2 linked regions of the Homo sapiens genome follow. The protein of the gene in region 2 purifies or fractionates together with the protein of the main gene of each other region. This does not show direct contact. Each region holds a gene or a part of one and is shown on either strand. Other genes may lie near its edges.

Region 1 (3,500 bases), on a different chromosome or scaffold from region 2:
GAGCTGACCAGTCCCCAACACAATGGGAGCACTCTCGCAGTGGCTGTGTCTACGCTAGGTTAAGGAGACAAGCTGGCAGAAATCTAAGGCCCATGTCTTCCTTCATATCCAGATCCTAAATGCCCTGGAGGAAGAAATAAACTGGCTGGATGTTGTGTTATAAATGATGCCGTGTTATAAATGACGTTGTGTTATAAATGGTCCCAAACTTTCACTTTAAAATATGCTATTTACTTTTTTTACAGTTATAAAAATAATACATTATCAAAATAGACAACTTACAAAACACAAAAATCCACCAAGGGAAACACAGCAAAGGCCCCTGATCCCACCATCTAGAAAGAACGAGAGTCTTTCTGGCCCGAAGGCACCAGCTCTGATGAAGGCACAATGAGGAGATGCCAGCACAGACTTCCCCAGACCTGAGGTGACGCTACAAACGAGCGGTGCACAGCCACACACGCAGGTTTAGAGTTCGGGAGGAGGAGACCTAAGTCCTGTCTTCAAAAACAAAAAGCAGGCCGGGAGTGGTGGCTCATGCCTGCAATTCCAGCACTTTGGTAGGTGGACGTGGGTGGATCATTTCAGGCTGGGAGTTCAAGACCAGCCTGGCCAACAAGGCAAAACCCCATCTCTACTAAAAATACAAAAGTTACTTGGGCGTGGTGGGGGGCGCCTATAATCCCAGCTACTAGGGAGGCTGAGGCAGGAGAATCACTTGAATTCAGGAGGCGGAGGTTACAGTGAGCCGAGATCGCGCCAATACACTCCAAACTCGGCGACAGAGTGAGACTCCGTCTTAAAAGAAAAAACAAAACAAAAACAAAGCGAGCCACCGTGGAGATCCACCTGCCGCTGCTCCCGCGGGGGTCACTTCTCTGGCTCCTGCAGCCGGCAGCTTAGGCAGCACAACACAATCCACTAGGACATTCGGGAATGGTTTTAAAACCAAAGTGGATTCATGGCGACCCCTTAATAATCTCCTGGACTGCTTTCGGACATGCTTTCTGGAACAGGAGGGGTGTGGAGAGCCAGCGTGTGGGGACTTCGGTGACCCTGGGGGGGTACACAGGAGGGTGTGTGAACACGTGCCATCACATATGACCACCACTCGCCTCGTGGGGACCCACCGAACCATCCACTCTGCTCATCTGTGCCCACCCCACTGCCTCTGTATGACGCCTCGTAAGGACAGAGACAAAAGAGCTCCTAGGAGAGGGGAGAATGCAGGAGGCTATACGCATGGTTCTCAAAGCTTCTGCAAATATAACGGCGGCCTAACATTTGGTCTTTGGTTCAAAATATTTCCCCCCTTCACCATTTTTTAATGCTGCAAAGCTCATCGCCCCTCTAGGGACAGTGCAAAGGATATGTCTGGGTCCCCTCAGGATCAGGTTGGCCTTTCTTCCTCTCAGCCAGATGCCCAGGTAAACTGGCCACCACAGACTCCCCCGTGCTCCGTGAGGCTTGGCAGGACCTGTGCGGCCTGGGAGGGAGGGCAGGGACTCGCCTGTGCATTCCGGAGGCGGCTGTGCCTGGTGGCAGTGAGGCACAGCCTTAGGGCGGAAGTCCTAGCTCTGCTGCTGGGTGCCCTTAGACCAGGCAATCCCTTCGCGTCTCCCCTCCCTCCTCTGTAAAATGAGAATAACACCCATCTTGTGGGCTCCTGAAGGGATTAAATAACACACGGGAGGCACGTCCCGCACCGCCTGGCACACAATCGGCCTCGACATGCGGCACAGCACCCGTCCAAACCTCCCATGAGCCTCATTCGGGGCCAACCATCTCTCTCATTGCAAATAATAATAATAATAAAAATAACTGCCTTCAGTCCAGGCCTGGTGACTGACCCTATCCAGAGCCAACTCCAACCCAGAACCAGCTAGGCCTGTGCTGCCGGAGAGGCTGTCAAGTCAATGCACGAGGGCTCTGCCAGGGACGGCTTCAGCCCAACAAAGGGCATGTGTGGCGAGGCCCCAAGACGGGCACCAAGGTGACACAGGCAGAAAACCCCAGGGAAGGAAGCCCTCCCACGGCCGAACCGGAACCCTCACCCTCCCAATGAACAACTGCCTTCCCAGCACCGTCTGGCCCTTCACCGCATTTCTAAACACGTCACACACACATCTGTTCCTCGACGTTCGGTCTCTGTTCATCCATCCTCCTCAAAATGAAAGTCCGGAACCTTCTGCACTAATTTTAAAGTCTGGCTGAACATTGAGTAACGAACAAAACTGAAAACACAAAAGAGATGGTATTTTTAATCTTGTGCATTTTTACTGAAAAATGAGAAGATAACTCTATCTCTAGCTATAGCTTTTCCTGTCTATGTGGCCAGCCCATAAATGAGTTCTAACTCCTTTTCTCTGGACTGTCTTCAGTTTTCCTGCACTGCGACTCAAGGATGAGGCGCCTCTACGGACAGTTCCGCGGCGCACGCAGCCCCAGGCCATTGCCGCAGCGGCCCCGGGAGTGCGCTGCCCCGCCTGGGAAAGGCGCAATCAGGTGCTCCTAGCAGGAGGAAACACACAGTGCACGCACCTGTTTAAATTTTCCTCTGATCTTGTCTAAGTCTTCATGGAGTTTATCGTAAGTAGGGTCATCATAAGGGAATTTCTGGATCATTCCAATCAATGATTCTAAGACCTTCATCTTTCTGCTGTAAAGCACAGAAATACAGACTCTCAGTCATGTGCACACAACAGGCTCAACTTACACAACAGCTATGCTGCTGGCTTCCTGAAACCCAGCAGGTGCGCTAAGAATGCCTTCGTTCAAAAGCTGGATGATTATTTTCTCATTACACGAAATCATATTTATTTACCTAGCAACGAGCTTAGGCCCATACCCAGTGCCTCGACAGCAAGTGTGTGCCTAGCTTACAGACACGCCTCCATTCCGACCACGGGGCCAAGGGGCTGAGGCAGCCAGAAGCCCTGCTGACTCTCGAGGTCACACATGCAGAAACAGACAGAACTGGGCAAGAGGGACTGGGGCTGGGCACGAGCAGGCCTGCTCTGGGTCTGGGGATTTTCCAGGATCTGGATTCTTTGTGCTCAAAGCCTTCCAAAGTTCAGCTGCAGGTAAACCAGCAAACCCCTCCCTCCAAAGGCGGAAATCAGTACTGTCCCCTCCCCAGGGAGGAAACAGCTTTGCTGGGGAGGCAAGGAGGTTCTGCAGAAAGGCTGTGCACTCAGGAGACAGCAGCCCTGGGCATGACATCTCCCCAACACCTCTCTACCTGCTTTCAACCCTGCTGGCCTCATCTGTAAAATGGGGGGCATCCCAGCCTCCAGATGGTGAGAAATTAATTTCTGTTTTGTTTTTTTTTTTTTAATGGGGAGAGTAACAGCAACCTCACAGACTTTCAAGAGGATTAAATAACTGACATGGGCCGGGCTCGGTGGCTCACGCCTGTAATCCCAGCACTTTGGGAGGCCGAGGAGGGTGGATCACCTGAGGTCAGGAGTTCGAGACCAGCCTGACCAATATGGTGAAAC
Region 2 (3,500 bases):
TTACTTCCCTAGAATTGAGTCCTAAAAGAGAGATTACTGAGTTGAAGGGTATGCACATTTTAGATTTGACTAGATGCTACTAAATTACTTTCCATAAAGGGCTGCCATTTATACTCTCAAAGCAGCATATCAAAGAACATGTTTTTCCATTGCTTTTGCAGCACTGATATTAACAAGCCTTTTAATTTCTGCCAGTCTTACAGGGGAGAATGGCATCATATTAGTGTTTATCTGATTATATCTTTTCCTATAGAGTTTTACTTTTTAAATTGCCTTATTGACCTTTAACATCTTTATATCAACTTCATTGTGCCTCTCAAAAGATCACTCTCATCTTTCTATTTAATATCTGTCACATATCTTGAGCTTTCAGAGTATCTCATTAGTTCAGTGGCTTACAGAATTAATTCAAATAGTTTTAAAATCATTCCTCTTGTGTCCTGTAAAGAACCATTTTAAATGATTACTTTGCATTTTTTCACTTGGATCTTTGTGTCATTAAAAAAATTTATATTTGCATAATGTTGATAACTGTTATTTCCAATATTTTGTAGCAAATCCTATTTGAGGGTTTCTTCATGTGTTTCTTCCCTGATGTGCAGAGCATTATTATATGGTGGAATGCGAGAGTCTCAGCCTGAAGCAGAAATTCCTCTCCAAGACACCACTGCAGAAGCATTCACAATGCTACTCAAATATATCTACACTGGGCGGGCAACGCTGACAGATGAGAAGGAGGAGGTGCTGCTGGACTTTTTGAGCCTGGCTCATAAATATGGATTTCCAGAGCTAGAGGATTCTACCTCTGAGTATCTCTGCACCATACTTAACATTCAGAATGTCTGCATGACTTTTGATGTTGCCAGTCTCTACTCACTTCCCAAGTTAACTTGTATGTGCTGCATGTTTATGGATAGGAATGCTCAGGAAGTCCTCTCAAGTGAAGGTTTCCTCTCCCTTTCTAAGGTGTGTCATTTGTCTACAAGTAATTTATAGGCATGCATTGTTTTATTTATACCTATACTGTAGAAGTATAGCAATGGACTAAGAATAATAAAAAAAATCATTGGTATCAAAGCGTTATCATTGGTTATCTGGTCTAGCCACTTGCATCTAGCTACCAGGACTCTAGATCATAAAAGAGAGGGGCTGGTTGGTTGTGTTTTCTTTTAAGGTTCTTCAGGTAAGTTTTATGTGCAAAAGAGACTGTGCTGCTGTGTGGTTGTTTTCAAGGTAGTGACAATCAAATAGGGTCCTTTTTGGTATTGCATACTACCTTTTGGTTTTGTTTTTCTCTGACAGAGAGTGTGACTAATAATTCCTTAGAGCAAGCAGGCAAATTCATAGAGGAGATCTGATGCAACATTTGATGTCTTTAAGTCCCTGCTTTTTTTGCTGGCTTAAAATTCAGTATTATAGCTAGAGTAAAACTGTTTTGCTCAAATCTTCCTTTGAACTCTGGGTAGTGATTGTCTCTCCATTTGCCTTGTTGTGTTCCTTCTAGAACCTGGATATTTCTAATGAGAAAAATCTATTGAAAAGCTACATATCTTGATTTGAGTGTAAATTAAGATCTGTGTTATCCTATTTCATTTTTTTCTACTTAATTTTTAAAGACAATGATCTTTGAGGGTTGCAACATTGTTCCTGGAGGTCAGTTTGGAGATCTGAGAGCCAAAAGTATGGTAGTGAAGTAATACTGTGGAACAAAATTTGAATTTTAAATGCCAAATATGTCTTTCTAACTTAACAATGTACACTCTCTTGAAGAATCTGAATGTATTGACAGCTTTTCACTTTGGCGTTTTTCTTTTTGCTGTTTTAAAAAAGATGAATGCAGATGTGTTTGGAAAGATTAAATGTTTGATGTAGTGGTACAAGATACCTGAACATAAAAGAATGGTGCTACCGTCTTGGTTGTTTACACAGCCATAATGAGTAGGAGAATATGTGGCACAAAGCATAAGGGAAGGAGAGGGTCAAAAAGAGTTAATTGGCTAAGTTATACTTGTCCTGTAAGCTTTTACTGATTGGTCATGCAGTGGTTGAACTTCATATAACTGGAATTTTACCTTTTTATCCTTTTCAGACAGCACTTTTAAACATCGTGTTAAGAGACTCATTTGCAGCTCCCGAAAAAGATATTTTCCTAGCCTTATTAAACTGGTGTAAGCACAATTCAAAGGAGAATCATGCTGAAATCATGCAGGCTGTGCGTTTACCTCTCATGAGCCTCACAGAGCTTCTGAATGTTGTGAGGCCTTCAGGACTGCTGTCTCCTGATGCCATCCTGGATGCCATTAAAGTGCGATCTGAGAGCCGGGATATGGACCTCAATTATAGAGGCATGCTCAGTAAGTACCTGTCTATCCTAAACTCAACCAAGAAGCTTGGTATGCCTCTCATGCCATTAAAACCGCAAAGCTACTACAGAACCGTGTAGTGCAGGTGTACATGAAATATGTACGTTTATAAACAGCTAGCCTATGGAATGTCTTTCCCTTTCATTTTCCTGTTAATTCCTCCTGAGATTGATTAGCTTTTGTAGACCCCCAAATAGGTATTTCTTGCCATTCCTGGACAGATTTCTCAACTCCTCCCCAGAATGTCAGAAATGGACACTTTCCTAAAAAGCTGCTGCTCATGTTAAGACCTTTTCTTCCTTCCTCCATCAAATAAATACTGAGTACATTCTATGTACTTATTATTTTGGGTACCATGAACATGGAGATTCTTTTTTTTTTTTTTGAGATGGAGTTTCACTCTTGTTGCCCAGGCTAGAATGGAAGTTGCAATCTCGGCTCACTGCAACCTCGCCTCCCAGGTTCAAGCGGTTCTCCTGCCTCAGCCTCCTGAGTAGCTGGGATTACAGCCACCCGCCACCACACTCGGCTAATTTTTATTTTTAGTAGAGACGGGGTTTCACCATGTTGGCCAGGCTGGTCTCAAACTCCTGACCTCAGGTGATCCACCTGCCTTGGCCTCAGAAAGTGCTGGGATTACAGGCATGAGCCACCACGCCCGGCTGAACATGGAGATTCTAAATAACAATAATAATAGCTAACACTTATGTAACATACATACATAAGGTAGCTAACACTTATGATACTTATCACCACTTAAGTGGTGATTTTTCTTATTAATGGATTTATAGCAATTAACACTTACAGAGTGCATAGTATGTATCAAGAACAGGTCCTACACGATTTAATTCTCACAACTCTTTGAGGTATATACTGTTATTGACTCCATTTTACACAATGAGGAAACTGAAACAGAGAAGTTAAGTAACTTGCCCAAGGTCACACAGAAAGATGACAGAGCTGAGAGTCAAACCTATGTAGTTTGGCTCCAGAAGTTGTGTAATTAACCACTAAACTATGCTGCATAATTGTTAAACATAGTCTCTGCCTTTGATCCTTTTAATTTCATTGTGGAAATAAGACATAAACTCCCATGAAAAGTTAAATACAACAATATTCAAGGGAGTACATGTTATA

What was found. The genes of interacting proteins can lie anywhere in the genome.
Region 1: the proteins of BTBD9 (region 2) and LTO1 purify together in Homo sapiens (co-immunoprecipitation; one large-scale study listed by IntAct). This does not show direct contact.

Annotation. Positions count from the first base shown.
Region 1 is NC_000011.10:69,665,354-69,668,853, forward strand, and holds the end of LTO1 (protein LTO1 homolog), read right to left. Parts: intron 2,660-3,500; coding exon 2,542-2,659; intron 2,235-2,541; coding exon 2,166-2,234; 3' UTR 210-2,165; downstream 1-209. UniProt on the Homo sapiens protein: The complex LTO1:YAE1 functions as a target specific adapter that probably recruits apo-ABCE1 to the cytosolic iron-sulfur protein assembly (CIA) complex machinery. May be required for biogenesis of the large ribosomal subunit and initiation of translation.
Region 2 is NC_000006.12:38,591,430-38,594,929, reverse strand, and holds part of BTBD9 (BTB/POZ domain-containing protein 9), read left to right. Parts: intron 1-554; exon of another isoform or gene 555-594; coding exon of another isoform or gene 595-602; coding exon 603-966; intron 967-2,089; coding exon 2,090-2,354; intron 2,355-3,500.